Regions from separate parts of the Homo sapiens genome. Here region 2 is linked to region 1. Evidence: fine-mapped expression QTL. A gene starts in region 1. The other region holds a variant in brackets. All regions are shown on one strand. Distances are between the middles of the regions.

What was found. PIP is the estimated chance that this variant, and not a neighbour inherited with it, causes the effect.
Region 2: its variant is fine-mapped to the expression of CFAP58-DT in blood mononuclear cells (TOPMed, PIP above 0.99).

What each region holds. Positions count from the first base shown.
Region 1 is chr10:104,349,263-104,357,604 of GRCh38, forward strand. CFAP58-DT (CFAP58 divergent transcript) reads right to left here and starts at 4,313. Exons shown (of 2, transcript NR_108036.1): 1 at 3,856-4,313; 2 at 2,039-2,665. CFAP58 (cilia and flagella associated protein 58) reads left to right here and starts at 4,571. Exons shown (of 18, transcript NM_001008723.2): 1 at 4,571-4,644. The coding sequence starts at 4,636. RefSeq lists enhancers at 221-1,145, 616-735, 1,966-2,025, 2,784-2,833, 2,854-2,963 and 1 more.
Region 2 is chr10:104,382,766-104,391,107 of GRCh38, forward strand. All of the region lies in intron 9 of CFAP58 (cilia and flagella associated protein 58), which reads left to right. Among named protein-coding and RNA genes, the nearest start is that of CFAP58, 33 kb to the left of the region's middle. The variant A/G (reference allele first, on the strand shown) is at 4,902.

The DNA of each region.
Region 1 (8,342 bases):
AAAACAAAACAAAACAAAACAAAACAAACAAAAAAATTGATTTCCTCACAGTTATGGAGGTTAGAAGTCCAAGATCAAAGTGTCAGCAGGTTTGAATTCTTCTGAAGCCCCTCTCTTTGTTGTGCAGATAGTCTCCTTTTCACTGTCATTCCTCTCTGTGCACACATCACATACCTCGTGTCTCTTTGTGTGACCAATTTTCCTCTTCTTGTAAGGATACCAGTCTGATCGGCCTTATTTTAACTTAATCACCTCTTTAAAGGCTCTATCTCCAAATACCATCACATTCTGAAGTAGGGGGCATCTGGACATTAACTTATGAATTTTGGAGGGACACAATTCAGCCCCTAACACCAGTGGAGACAGGGGTGAAGAAGACGTGCATCATCTTAGAGCTCCTGTAGTTTGACGGTGTGGTAGGGAACACAGGTATTAAGCAACTATTTACATGACTAGGCCATTAGTTACCACTGTGGGATGATGCAAGAAGTAGAATACACAATGCTGGAAAAGGTAGTCTGGGGAAGTGAGACTGAAAGTAATGTGAAGAAGTGAGATCTGAAAGAAGATTGGATGGGAGCCAGCCAGCTGAAGAGAGAAAGAGAGAGAGTCAAGTATTCCAGACAGGAAGATCAGCATTTGTGAATTCCAGGCAGTGGGAAAGAGCATGGCTACCCAGGGAATTGAAAGAACCAGTGTAACAAGGAGTGAGTGATGGGAGCTGGCACCAGAAAGTCGAAAGGGCCAGATTACACAGGACCTTATTTACTGACATCCTCATTTCAGTGCTTACTATATCCTGTCTCGGACTGTTGTCAGAAAATCTTTTAAGGGGAGTGTTGGCGTGCACAATTTGCTTCTCCTGATGCTCCTCAAGGGAGAAGATCGTGTCTTCAACTCCTTTTGTATTCTCTCTCCACAGTATGCAACATAGGGCTGGACATATAGTAGGTGCTCAAGAAATAAATTAAGTGGATATAATGAGAAATGAGATGAATAGAAGCACTCATTTGTCTAAATTAGGGGCTGACGCGATCTTGTTGGGTGTGTTTCTCCTAGAGGCTCTGAAAGGTGAGGACTTTGATACTATAATGCCACCTAGTGATTCTTGTTATTACAACAACACAGGGGAGCAGGGTGGTGACTAGTCTTCTGTAATCCAGAAAATTGGAAATCAAACATTTTGTTTCATCAGCATAAATTGATATGTCCGACCACCCATCCTTTCATCCATTCATCCATCTGTGTTGATGCCCCCTGCATCTCTTTCCTATGAGCTGAACATGTCACGCGCCTTTCTACCTCCTTGTGGTTCTTTGATTGCTCAGTCATATTTGGGTCTTTTTGTCCTCCTATAAGTAAGGTCTCAGATACCAGTATCTAGATTCTCTGAGCTCCCATTGTGCTTTCTGTTAAAATGGCATATACTAAATGATACCATCTTATTGCATTAGAATTAACTGTAGATGTTCCCTTCTGTCTTTCCCCTAATACAGATTGTGAATGCAAAGGGCAGTGACTCTGCCATAGTCACCTTGGTGCTTCCTGTGGGCAGCCTTGTGCCTACCATGCAGTACGTTCCTTAAAAAATTGTTTACTGGATTGAACTGCTGTCACCTATGCAGGGCACCTACTTATGAAAGCTCTTTTAGGAGATCCCTTGGACATGGGAAGACACACAGCCCTGCACTTGACATCAGTGCAACGTATGGGTGACCAGGGCCCTCTAGGTCTTTATTTTTGTTATATACTTTCAGAAATGTTATGGAGTTTCTCTGGATCATGGCAATCCTACAAACCGATGGTCCCAATGTGTAATCAGGTTTCCTGTGAACACACAAAGCAGCCTGAGCTGGGTTGCCTGTCCCATTTCAAGCTCATTTCTATTAGCTTGGCTTACAGTGTGGTTCAGCCTGCCTCTCCAGTTCATCTGCCACCTCTCCAGCAACCTCCATGCACATTATGACTCAGCCACATTTCCCTCTTTTTGTCCACCAGATATACAGTGTCAGGTCATGAATGAGATGTCACTGCACAGTTGCCAGTTTTCCTTGCATTTATTCATCAACCCAACACAGTTCTCATAAACTTGACAAACTTACTCTAAACATTATAAGGGAGGATAAAGGCCCGTGGATAGACAAAGCAATCTTAACACAGAAGAATTTGGAATGGGGAACTTGCCCTTCAAGCATGATGACTAACTAAAAACCCACAGTGACAAAACCTTGTGGTACTGACACATGAACAAACCAGAGAGCTCAGAACATACTCATGTCTATTTGGAAACTTCCCCAAACCAATTTGGAAAGAATGGATTGTTTGACATGGGTTGTTGGAAAATTTGCTCACCCCATGGAGAAAAATATAGTTAGATCCCTATCTCACACCATATGGGAAGGAGAACTCCAGATGGATTAGATAACTGAATGTAAAAAAGTAAAACTATGAAGCTAATGGATAGAAAAAAATGATGGGAGAATACCTTTATGACCGTGGGGTTAAGGAGGTCTAAATAATACCAAAAAACTATATAAAAAATATAGGGAAAAAAAGAGCTAAAGAGCCACAGTATCAAAGTTAAGGACTATTGTTCCCTTAAAGACATAAAGGCAGAGTTTCTAGTCTTCTAAAGCAGATTGATGTCCAGGCTTCTCAAAGATATCTGTAAATCAAAAGAAAAAGAAAAAAGATCAATAGAAAAATAGACACAGACACTGAAAAGGCAGTTCACAGAAGGGAATCTCAAGTAGCCTATGAATGTATAAAGAAATGGTCAAAAAATTCACTAGTAGTTAGAGAAGTGAAAATGAAAGCAAAAAATGAGCTTACACTACTTTCATCATATTGACAGAAATTAGAAAATTAGCTAATTAGATGAGTCAATATTTGCAAAGCACTTAGAATAGTATCTGGTATTTACTAAACACTTTATGAGTGTTTAATAAAAAAGACCTATCACCTTCTGGAAGGGATGGATGGAAGTGTTGGATGGAAACCCCACACTGGAGTGCAGCGTAGGGCAGTAACTCTGGTACACAATCTTAAAGTGCTTGGTAAGTACCCAGGGCTTGTACTAGGCTACTGGGCATCGTTGTGCTCTTGGAAAACTGTTCATCTGGCCAGATGAGTTTGAAAATATCACACCCTCTAGATAGTTACAGCCTTCTAGGTTCATGACTTGGCTGGCGTACAGAGATTTTGTGAGAATAAAAAGTGCACACCTTTCTCCAGTAGGGCACATGGCACGGGAAAGAGAGTAGAGACAGTTTTTCAGCCTCCATTGCCCCATGGCTGGATGTGTTTGTGCAGGACGCAGCTGCATAAGCAAATGTCCCTGTGCATCCCTATAACTTTAACAATCTTACTCCTTGGCATATATTTCAGAGGAATTTGCACAGAGGTCCTTAAGGGACCACGGACAAAGACGATCATGGCTGTATTACTTGATGTATTGGAGAATTAGAGGCGGCCTTGTTACCTAACACCTGGGGAATGGAAGTGAAGTGTGGTAGATGCCCCTTATGAAACGCTGTGCAGTACTCAGAAGCAATGAACTATATGCTTGCCAATCGCAACGAGGACAGATCCTTAAAAAGAATGTTGAGTGAAAAAAGTAGAAAATAAGATAATCTCCAAAGTCCAGTAGCATTATTTAAACATTTTTAAAAAATACACTGATAAAAATTTTGTACATTTCCCAAAAATACATATGGAAGCACAGCAGCATGAATGCCTATGGGGTTGAGGATAGGGGTTGGGAGTAGGGATGGGGATAAAGGGGGAAAATAAAACCAGAGAGGAGTCTTACACATTTCATGAACCAAGGAGTATAATTATTTCAACTATTTGTACCTGAAGTCCAGAAAGAGTGGAGGCAGAAGGGGGAGAAGAGGGCGAAGAAACGTTTTTGGGAGAGGGGTCCCAGAAGAGAGATTTTCGCGATGTGGCGCTACATACGTTTTTCCAGGATGCCTTAAGCTCTGCACCCTATTTTTCTCATCACTAATATTAGATTAAACCCTTTGAAGACAGCGTCTGTGGTTTCTCTACTTCAGCTTTCCCTCCGTGTCTTGCACACAGTAGCTGTTTTACAAGGGTTGAACTGACTGAAGTGAGATTATTCCTCGTTGTCTCGGAAGGCAGAGTGTAGCCGCCAGTCCTTCCCTCATCCGGAACCTTCTGGTCCACATTTCCTTCCAAGCGTTAGTCCTCGGCTCTCCATGCTTGGCTCCCTAGTGTCACACACCGTCCTTTCTGGGTGGCCTCTTCCAATTCGCCCTCTTCTTTCTCCTGGGTGTCTCCATCTGCCCACACCGTGGGACTCCTCCCAGCCTCTCAGGGGCACCGCCCCCTCACTTCCTTGGCTCCGCCCCATTGGGATATATTTGCATATTTCTCTGAGGAACCCTGCCCAGGTGCCAGCCGCAGAAGCTCCTCCCCTTTCGAATTCCCGCTAGCGCCCCTAGAGGGCGTGTCCGTTGCCAGGCGACGGGCCGACGCGCCGAGCGCGGGTTTCCGCTCGGGGCGGGCGATAGAGACAGCGCGTCGCGCCTTTAGCTTCTTTCCCAGACTCCGGCCCAGCTCCTGCGATCTCCACAGCAGCCTCTGAGGCCGCCCCCAGAGAGCATCAGGATGGCTGAGGTCAGGAGTCAGCGCCCCTCTGTCGCCTTTCCCTTGACCCCTCCCCATTGTCCCTCTCCTACTGACGATTGTCACAAACGGTGATTCCAATATTTCCCCCCATCAACATCTTATTCCCCTGCACCCTCACTCACTCCCGCGCCTTTCTCCGTTGGCTCTGGCCTCTTTACCTCCTGTTTCTCCTTCATTTGTGTGGACACCCCACTATCCCCACTGTGGCATCGGCGCTATGCTAAGTGCGGTAGAAAATTAATGAATTCTGAAATCCACACGTGACATGCACCCAGCCCTAGATTTTTAGTCATGGAGTGATACCATAAGAGAGGCTCACACAGAAATATTGGAGATGTCTTATCTCACAGGGGAAACCGGGAAGAAAGCTTCACAGATGCCTGCTGTCATCCCAATCAATGGCCCTTGTCCACCTGTCACACCCTGATTTCCTAACATGTGATCACCTGCTGTCACACAGCTTCATTAAGGCTCTTCTGCCCATCACCTCTGCCCCGTGTGTTCATTGACTCCTGTGTTAACATCTCGTATCACCCCACCACTCCCCCATATTACAGTACACCCCATTTTCAGCCTCTCCAATGAGGGGTTATTTCTGCAACCCTTCAGTGACTCCCTGCCTGCCCCTTAGCCCCCTCACGTATAACCTCAAGAGCCTCGGGTCCCTGTCATTACTTGCCATTCACAGTCCCCATCCACTATGGCCCTACCCAAATCCTTCATGGCCCCATCAGAGCCCTTCCCCCATCACCCATCCCACGGTCTGTTCCAGCCAGGACCAGCTACATGATTTGCAAGGCCTGATGCAAAGTGAAAACACAAAGTCTCTTCAAAAATTACAAATAATTTTAAGACAGAACAGCAGAGCATTCAACCAAGAATGGGGCCTTTCTGAGCAAGGGGCCCTGTGCAACTGACCAGTTTTCACTCCCATGAAGCCAGCCCAAGCCCCATCATCTTTCAGCACCATCGTGCTCCACCCCCTCCCCACCCCATTCTAGTTACTCTCTTGCTTCCTCTGCACCATTCACATCCCCTCATCATTGCTTTTCCTCCATCTCCAGTCTAGCTTTATAAATTCCGTCTTCCCGTGGTCAACACCTCCTTCCTTTCCTTATCATACGATCTCTTTCATATCATCCATCTTCCTCACGCCTGGGCTCCATCACTCACATCTCTCTCTGACATCCATGCTGCTGTGGCCACTTCACTTCTCCCCATTACCCATAGTCATTTGTATCTCTTTCTTCCCATTTCCTTTCTTGTTCCTTCTAGTTCTTTATTGTCCCATTATTGCTTTTGAGTGTTTTCTCCTCTTTTCTCCCACCAGTCATCTTTGTTTATTTCATTCTTCATTCCCCATAGGGAAGCCCCAGCCTCCCAGAGGCACCAGCCCCTCATTTCCTTGGCTCTGCCCTATTCAGGATATATTTGCATATTTCTGTGAGGAACCCTGCCCAGGTGCCGGCCTCAGAAGCTGCTCCACTATTATGGATTAGTTATTTCCATTTCCCTCTTTCTGTTACTCCTCTCGTTTCTTCCTTTCTTCTACTTTTCTTCTTACTTGACCTCAGCCAACTTTCTCGATTCTGCTTTCACAATTCTCTATTTCCCCTCTGGCCTCATCTTATATTGCAGTTCTCTTTTCCTTTTCCCTTTTCCTTCTCCCCACTAATTGATATTCCCAGAACTTAGGACAGGACAGTGCCTGGCACATAGCAAACAATCAGTGAATAGGTGAAGAATAAAGAAATGCCACAGTTCCTTTCTGATCAGTTCACGTTGATTTCATCCTTCTGAAACAGATACCATTATATGTTATAACAGTGGAAATATCAACTGTTTATTGGCCAAAGCTAAGAGATTATTTTTCCTTTGCTTTTAATGACAATAGGAACAAATCTCTTTTGTTCCTAAAAGTTTCTTTAAAACTTTTCCTTCTTTGGTATTTTTCCATTCCTGTGCTAAGTGCCAGGTAAACAGGTAAAACTTGGACTGCTAACAAATCATTAGGCTGTTGATCAAGTGTTGACGTTAATACCATTTACAGGGATGGAACCAAGAACAGTGCAGTGACAAATTTTTGTGTGTGCTTATGTTTAGCATCAACAAGGGAGAAGAACAGAACAGCAGCAACACCGTATTTCCTTAATATGGTTTTTCCTCCTTTGTGGAATTACTACATTGTGGTCTTTGCAATAATCTGCTTTTAGTCAGGAAGAAAAACCTATGTGAATTTAAAATTAGTACTAAAGTTGTTATACAAAATGCTATAGATATGCTTGTGACTCTACATTTATTTTAATTTACAAAGACTGTTTTGCTTGCATGTCATCGTTAGAGATTTAATTAATAGTACAAGTGTTTTCGAAAACCAAGAATACGTAGACTTTTTCCATATTGGGCAAGACGGGCTTGTCAAAACAGAAGGTAAACTAGACTCCTTAAAATCTTCAGGGTGAATTGAAATTTTACTTTATTATTGGGACTACAGATTGTTTCAGTTGGTTTCTTTTAGCAAGAGAGTGTTGATGCCAAGGCCCTTTGTAGAGTAGAATATTAAAACATAATGTTGCAAACGTAAGTAAGGCCTTGCAAGCCTTATGAGTCCTTTGCTCAAAAGTCTTGAGTGGTTCCCTGTGGCCTGCAGAATAATGCAATCCGTACTCCTTTGAATGTAATTCAGTGTCTTCACTGTGTGTCCCTCACTCCCTAGCTTCCTTCTGGGCCTGCTCAAATGCCAATTTTTTTCTGAGATTTTTTTTTTTATTCTTGCTGCTGGGAATAATTCTCTTTCTGTGGGTTCATAGAGAACTTTGAATACATTTTATGATAGGGATCAAATTCTATGCTTTCATTAACTGCATTCATATCCCACCAGCAATTAAGTATAAATTCCCTGTGGATAAGCTGTTTATTACTCATCTTGTGGATAAGCTGTTTATTCCCAATCCATCATAGAATTTATGTATGGCAGATGTTCAATAAATACTTGCTCAATGAATGAATAAATATATTAACCATACCCATTCTTCTTCATTATTATGTTGTAGCTAACAAGAAGTAGGTGGATTTGTTTGCTAGAGCAGCCATAACAAAGCACCACAAACTGGGTGGCTTACTCCAGTCTGAGCTCATCTTAACTTATTAAATGACTCTGTTCCAAATAAGGTCAGATTAGCAGGGTTAGGACTTCAAAATACCTTTTTGGGGGACACAATTCAACCCCTAAAAGTAGAGAAATAAGAATCCCGATATAACTCACTCTTAGGTTCTCATCTAAGTAATAGCCAGACTTGCTTGAATTATATCTATATGTCTGGGCTTATATTTTGAAATAATTTGTTGCCCATCTAACCATGGAAAGCAAATGTGGAAAAGTCCCATGAGTATTGCACAGGGGCATTTTAGGACACTGTGGGGCATGACCTAGCCTACATTTCTAAGGAATAAAAATGATGGAATCTCTTTTGGGAGATAAGTGCATATTTCAGGTGAGTTTCACTGTATATGTGATTTCATGATATCTATGCCAAGATCTTCCTATGTCTGGCCTCAACACACCGTGGCCACCCCCCGCTGCCCTTTGCAGTCTTAGGGGCAATAAGAAGCAGGGCCCAGTGAAAAGAGACCAGGGTTTGGAATAATCATAATAGCTCTGAAAATTCCTTGAATCCCTACTATTT
Region 2 (8,342 bases), 34 kb after region 1:
AGATGCCTGCTTCCCCATCCACCATGATTGTAAGTTTCCTGAGGCTTCCCCAGCCAGCGGAACTGGGAGTCAATTAAACCTCTTTTCTTTATGAATTACCCAGTCACAGGGAAGTTTTTTGTAGCAGTATGAAAATGGACTAATGCACATGTCAGTGGCACATGGGAATAAGGAGATGAAGCTGTTTGGGGCTGGAGGAACCAATCCAGGGATGCCAGCTGCCCAGGTCCCACCTGGCCATCCTGTGGGTATAGTAAAATCAGTATTTTAGCACACATCTGAAACCCATGAAAGGCACAGCAGTTGGGATACTCTGCATTAATGGGATAGAGTCCAACCTCTTTGTTCTCTGTGGAAAGTTCTGTCCTTTCTCTGCATGGCACATTCCTATTCACCCTTCGAGACCTAACTCAAATGCTCAGGTCAAGCTCCCTCTGGTTCCTTATGGGCAGAGCTTGTCACTTCGTACTTTTATGGATTTGTTAATGTCTCTGGAATGATGATTATCAATCTATAGTGTAATTATTTATTTGCATATTTGTTTTATCCACTTTATAGTGAGCTTTTGGGGGCAAGGACTTTATTTCATTCATTTCTTTATTTCTAGCATCCTGGCACATGAGAGACACCAAAAAAGTATTTGTTAAACAAATGGATAGATGATAAGTGGTAAAAAGAATGCTGCCACTGATTTTAATATACAATTGTATATATTTCTTGGCTTCCTTGTAAAAGAGAGATTCGGATACCAAGTTTTTTTGTTAACTGTTTTTCACAAGTTCTGATATTTAACCACACATAATGTCTTACCTAAATAATTTAAACACAAGTTCTTAAAATATTACTTATCACCTACAATTTTTCTGTGTCTTGCTTAACCCCTGACAGCATGTATCAGTTGCTACGCAACTTGTGCATCTCTGGACTTCTTAAGGATATGTATGTCTCTTTGTCCTCTTCTCATATTTCTTTCTTTCTTTACTGTCCAACACACACACACACACACACACACACACACTCATTCTCACAAACGAAAAGCTCCCTTATGTGCATTCTATTTGTAGAGTATTGAGAAATAATATCAAAGGCTGGGGAAGATGTCATGAAACTGACATTTTCTTCTACTTCTAAAGTGAGTATACATTGTTCCAAGTTTATCTTTTTGACCCAGAATTTTCCTTTTTAAGAAAAAACTGAATCTAATGAAAAATAAGAAATGGAGAGATTTATATGAAAGAATATTTTTTCAAAACATAATTTATAATAATGAGAACTAGGAATCAGCCCCCCGAAAGGTTAAATAAATTGTGTTACATTTATTTGACATAGTATTATGTAGCTGTTAAAATCATGTGTTTGCAAATTATTTTTAAAGATGGGAACATGTTTCTAATATGAATCTGAGAAAGACAATGCAAAATTATTTGTAGAGTTTGTCTCCAGTTTTGTCTGTATGCATACAAAAAGGACTGGAGACATACCTAATTTGGCTCCTCCAATATCACTAAAGAATATTAGAAATTGGGAGGTGGACTGGGACTTGGCATGTCACTGTGTTTCCAGCTGTAGATTTGAAAGTGGATCTGCCACCACCCTAGGGTACTAAGAATTGGGCAAAGGTAAACCCCTTCACCTTAGTAGCATTGTTCTTAGGTTGTGGTAAATCCTGTCTTGCTCAAGAACGAATAAAGAAAAAAGCAGCCTAATGGAGCCTATGGGAAAACATGCCTGAGAACCAAAGAAAGAGAATGGCTTCTAGAAGCCCCACGGTAAAGGTCTGGCTCTGAAAATGCTTCTATGGCAAGAACTTTAGGTTGAACTCTTTGAAATAGCCTTTTTGTGGTAAGTAAGAAACAACTGACTATCAGCGATTTCATAAGGTTCTTAACCTAATAGAAGAAAATGCAGAGAAAAGGTTTGGCTTCCTTCAAAGATTGTAAGTACATAAAACCTGGTGCCAAGTTTCCCCTTGTGGGAGGAACAGTGTTTAGCAAAATACCTTGATATTTGCCTTGGTTTGAAAGGTGAGGCTCCATGAACCAGAGTGAAACAGTCATGTGAGAAAAGTAACAGGAAGTGGGAAAGGAGGAGTGGGTGGTGAGCAGGAAATAGGGAGTAGATAGGGAAGAATGGGAGAGGAGGGCACACAATGTCAGCATCAAGGCAGTAGGCTGGGTGCTGCTGGAAGTGAGGAGTTCCCTAAGACAGGAATGATGGAGGAATTGCAGAAAACAGTGATGTCCAATATTGGATTTTAAGTTCCTCAAACCTCCGGTGGCAAATCTGCTACATCAACCCTGCGTTGTGATTGCACTTTGGTGGCACAGGCATGGGGTGGTGAGGATGTGAGGTGACACATCCCAGAAAAAGGACAGTATGTGCAAGAGACAAGATGCACCTGAGAATCTAGAATGCTATGGCAACAGCAAACCAGAGCCACAGCAAGTAGAAGAAATGCAATTCTTCCAAGAATTCTTGGAGATATTAGAGGGTTTGGGGGCTTCCCAGCACATAGAATGGAAAGTCTAGACTTATTGTTGTTGTAAAGGACAAGGTGACCCCAGTAGAATACAGGACTATCACCTGAGTTATAAATCCAACATGGCGTTACTGCTAGGAGAAAGCAAAGATGAAATAAAAAGGAAGAGTTGGACAAAATAAGAATCAATTGTATAAAAACTAAAAAAGAAAAAAGAAAAAAAAGGCAGATTTAAAATCCACACCAAAGTTAGTAAAGAACAGAATTGATTGTTGTGGAAAATGGAATCAGGCCAGGTGTGGTGGCTCATACCTGTAATCTTAGCACTTTGGGAGGCTGAGGCAGGAGGATCCCTTGAGGCCAGGAGTTCAAGACCAGACTGGGCAACATAGGAGACCTGGTCTCTACAAAAATGATCATAGAGAAGATAAGAGAGAAGAGGGCAGAGAATAGAAACCAGCCTACAGAGAGTTGGTTTCTGATTATGGAAATGAGCCCCTGGTCAAGGATGTAGTGGGAAAATATTTTCTGGAGATGAAGAAAGACCTGTACAGGCTGACCATGTTCCAGGCAAAATCAGTGACAGGAGACTCTCCGTAGACTTGCCCTAGAGGAAAGCCCTTTTGTGTGTGTGTTTCATCTACAATAATGAAGAAAAATTCTCTGAGAATTTAGGCAAGAAGAAAAAGCAGATAGATGCCTAGTTACCCTTTTTTGTTTTAATAGGAAAATGAGTGGAAGGAACCATATTAACATATTAATAGTGGTTATCTTTGGGTGATAAGGATACAAATTGTTTAAATTTGTTCCTTTTTTGCTTTTTTTTTTTTTTAGCTATTCTAAAATGGATGGGCTGGGCATGGTGGCTCATGCCTGTAATCCCAGCACTTTGGGAGGCCAAGGTGGGTGGATCACCTGAGGTCAGGAGTTCAAGTCCAGCCTGGCCAACATGGTGAAACACCATTTCTACTAAAAATACAAAAATTAGCTGGGAGTGGTGGTGGGCACCTGTAATCCCAGCTACTTGGGAGGCTGAGGCAGGCAAATCGCTTGAACCTGGGAGGTGAGGTTGCAGTGAGCTGAGATTGTGCCATTGCACTCCAGCCTGGGTGACAAGAGTGAACCACCATCTCAAAAAAAAAAAAATAAATAAATAAATAAAAATAAGAAAAAGTAAAATGGTTGTGTATTACTTTAGTATCCTGATTTAAAAAATAAATAAACACTATTAATAACCTTGCCTTTCTTTCAGGGACCAAATAAAATTCCACCTTTCCCAAGAAGCTTTATTAAAAGTGATCTCTAATTCCTCTGTACTTGGCTCCCCTCTGGCAGTTGAGGAGGCCCGTGTGCACGTAACTGTTACTTGTGTATGTCTGCCTCATTCTACACACTGGCTTCTTGGGGGCGAGTCTTATTCAATTTTGAGTTCTTCATATTGCTTATTTACTAAGTAAATACTCAAATATTTTTTGAACTAAGAATGAATGGAAAGCATAATTGGACATCTGAGTTAACTAGTCAGAGGCTCACTTTTAAGTATCTGTATCAAGTTATTTTCTAACAATATATTTACTTGTGACTATGGGTCTGCCCTTCCTTTAAATTCATGTGAAACATGTTACCATGATGGATGATTTTATCTGAATTATCATTGGCATTTTTAGCTGTGAGTGACTTCCAGACCTGGTCTCTTCTTCCTTCTGAGCTGCAAAACAGCATCAACATTTGCCTTCGTGTTCTTTCTTGCTTAGAGAAAGAAAAGTGAACTTGAAGATGCTAAACTTCTACATTATATTGTATTCATTTAGCTTGGCATTTGCCAGTGAGGAAGAAGATCCCCTTTTGTGCCTGAACTGGATGGCTCAGAATCCCAAACCTTTTCCTATGTGTTTGTCTCCATCAACACTTGCAATAATAATAGTGCATGATAAATAGCCACAACATCTCCGTGGGATACAAAAACAAGCACTTATTTCTTATTCACACACCTGCAGTTGACAGAGGTTCAGCTGACCTAAACTGGGCTTGCCTGGACTTGGCTCTGGGATGTGGATTGGGCTCAGTTCTGGACCACATGTTTCTTATCCTCCACGTGCATGTTCTTCTCATGGGGGAAGGAAGGAGAACAAGAGACAAAGCCACGCATACAGGCACATGTCATGTCTCTCTACTTGTCTGATATTCTGACCTCCCATTGGCTATAGCGAGTCACATGGCCAAGGCTAACATCAACAGCAAGGGAAATGCACTTCTCTCTTTAGGTTGTGGGACAAGGGGAGAGAGTGAACATTTGTTAAACCGTAAGATAATCTACCCCAGGATTACAGCAGTTTTTATCCTCATGATTTTCCTTTGCTGCACTCTAAATTTCACTATTCAGATAAATTGAGAGGCATGAGAAATGGCATGGTAAGTTGTG[A/G]TCTACCATATTTCCTGCTTTCTGAACTTTTACATGTTCTAGATAAAACCACTCCTAGTAAATTATTAAATCTGCTGAACATTTTTCACATGATGCACTTGCCTCATTTTAGGATCTCCCTCTTTTTTCATTTCAAATATTAAACTTCTGGCAGTCACCTCGCAGACATTTTATATGCCAGAAAACATTCTTTTGCAACAAATCCCTAACAACAAATTTCCTAGCTCTTTGCTCATTTGCCTATAACACTGTCAAGCAAAGCTCTTCAGGACAGAGATTCCAGGAAATGAATAATAATGTGCTTTCAAGGACTTAATGCAAGCAAAGAAACCAAAAATTGATTAAAGAAATATTGTCCACTAGATAGATATCTTCATAATGAAATAAAGCTCCTGTTTCATTGATGTTAATTTGAATTTTATACAGAGCCTCTGTAATTGGGTAGAATCCTGGAGAGAGGAATCAAGGGAACACAAATTATAAGCTTTTTCTATCATAATAAAAGAAGCATGCTTCATATCATTACTTTTCCTGCAGAACAGGATTTGATTCGGAGGAAAATCAAATTAACTTTTTAAAGTACTAGTATTATGTAACGTGACGTAGTGTAAACTATCATAATAATTTGTTAGCATTTATTAAATGATTAAATTACTATATGCTAAGTACTTATATGCTGGCGTAGACATATATTCTCTCACTTAAATCCTCATAATAGCCCTGTGAGATAGATATTATTATATCCCCCATTCATAATATAATATGTTATGCAATTGAATCAAAGCCATAGATATGCCTCTCTAAATTCAAGATAGAGGGTAAAATAACAAGGCAAGAAAAATAGGGAAGACTCAGCATTTCGCAAGCCAGGGCGCATAGTTGTTTTCTATTATTGCAGAGTGAGTTTTTCAGTTTCATTATGAAGGTAAAAGCATTGTCAGCATTCAAACCATTGACATCAAGTCAGAAAAACTTATTGGAGAAGTTTATTGTACTGATATTTCATCAAATGTACATTAAGGGGTTCCAAATGCAATGACCTACTTTCTAATCCCACCTTGGTCTATGTGATGTTTTGGCTATGCTGCAGTTTTCCTGTATGCGTTATTGATTTCTATCTCACTCTTATTTCTATTGGCAGGTTGTTTTAACGGCAACAGAAAAGGTAGGAGTAGGTTATAAACTGAGGCTGTACTTCTGTCGTGCACTGTAAGCATTTTCTGGACTCCCCTGAAGCCTAGGAGTGCCAGGAGCACCAATTCTCTGGCTGTAATAAAACTTTCTATATTTGGATGTGATTTATCTCATGAGTTGGTTTGAGGTATCTCAAAGTGTATATTAATTAAGCTCCAGCCCCACAGCTGGCAGCCTGTGTCTCTGACATACCACTTCTAATGGGGACAGCTTGCTGACAAGAGGTTTGGCTACTACTTAACACCCATATACTTTATGAATTTTCAGGATTTGAACTTCTGCATGACTTTGGCCTGAATGATTTCCATAAAAATAAACCGAGTCCCAACACTTAGAAATACATTGCTTGTAAATTGTCTTTTCTGCTCGTTTCAATATTTGTTAATTCCTTTTATCTTCTTGGTGTCCTGACGGGTTCTTATTACTCCAGCTTCAAGGATCCAGAAGCAAGTTTGTGACTTTTGTGCATGTTGTCTGCAGAAAGACAGACCATGCTAGTTGGATGCTCAAAAAAGAAATGCCCCTGGCTACCTCCTTTCTCTGTGGCATTATTCTGCCTGTGCAAAGAATTATTCCTGTTCTAACATCTCTGAAAGTGACTGAACAAACAATTTTTTTCCTTTCTCTAACGTGCTGCTTGATATTCTGAATGCTGATGATGCTGTTCAAAGTATTTTCAATCTATTAAGCATTAACCTTTCAGTCTTAGATTCTCCCATAACACTTGGTGCATATCTCAGTTTACTGGTTATATCCATTCCTTGATTATCCATTCTATGGTGAAGTCACACCCTACAAGTGAACTTGAGGGTAGAGAATGTGTCTTATTCTTCTTTCTATCATGCGTGCTTTTACAGTGCCTGCCATAGATGGGTCCTCAGTACCTGTTCATGGAGTGAATGAATAAATGGGGGAGTGAATGAATAAGTGAACAATACTGTACTCTGTTCACTTTATGAAACTAACAGAAACCTTGAGATTAAAAAAGAACTAAAAAGAAAGATATAGGCCTAGCTCACTTGGGAAAATGCATGCAGAATCCTAAATGAAATTCCAGCAAACCAAATTCAACAGTACATTAAAAGAATCATCCAGTATGAACAAGGAGGGTTTATCCTGAAGCTGCAAGGATAGTTTTCTATTAAGAAAGCTATTGCTGGTGGTGTGGAAATGTAAAGTGTTACAGCCATTTTGGAAAGCAATCTAGCAATATCTATTAAAGTTGAAAATATATATGTCTTTTGAGCCAGCTATTCTACTCCTGGGAATCCATCCCACAGAAATAAATGCACAAGTGCATGAGAATACACATACAAAAATGTTTCCTGTAGCATGGTTCAGAGTGGCAAAAAAGTGGAAACAAAGTTAATGCCCATCAGTGGAGAAGAATTAAATTATGATGGCACACCCACTCTATAGGATATTATGCAACCTTTAAAGAGAATGAATTAGAGTGATGATTTCTACAAGGTATTATTTGATGATAAAAAGGAAAGTGCATTAAGAGTAATTATAAGATCCCATTTGGCTAAAAAGTAAAAACAAACCCCAAAAAGCCAAACAGAAAACAAACAAATCTGTGTAGTTGTCTATTTACTCATTGAATAACTTTGTAAATATTACTTATTTTGATCTGTTTCCTTCTTTGTAAAATTGGGGGCAATAATAGTACATATCTTAGAGGATTTTTGAGAGATTAAAGGAGCTAATACATATAAAATGTCAGGTACATAGAAGGTAACTGATGAATATTAGCTATTATTATTAGGTTGTAGACCTGAATAGAATATGCAGAATCCAATGAAAAATATGGAAGAATACATAGTAGATTGTTAACCTAGTTTTGTTTTGTGTAGAAGAGGGGCTGATGTTGAAGGGAGAAAGTTCAAGTAAATAAGGAAAATAAATGTATATTTCACATTTATGAATTTATTTTAAATTGTGGCACATGGAACTATATATAAAGAAATTAAAATATTTTTAAAAGGAAAAATCTGTTACTAGGTTTATCAAATCAATTGACCCAATAAGAAAGAATAGTACAAAATTATATACATTGAAAGACATTTACTAAAATTCAATCCCATCCCTCCTTAAGCACCTGTAAAAAAATTTTGAAAGGTGCTTATTTAAATATATAAAGGATAAATATTTAAAATCATAGCCATCATTAACTCTGATAGGGAAAGAATAGAACCAGACTTCTCATTTATGTATTTTCTGGGATGGCAATTCTGCAAGTGGAAA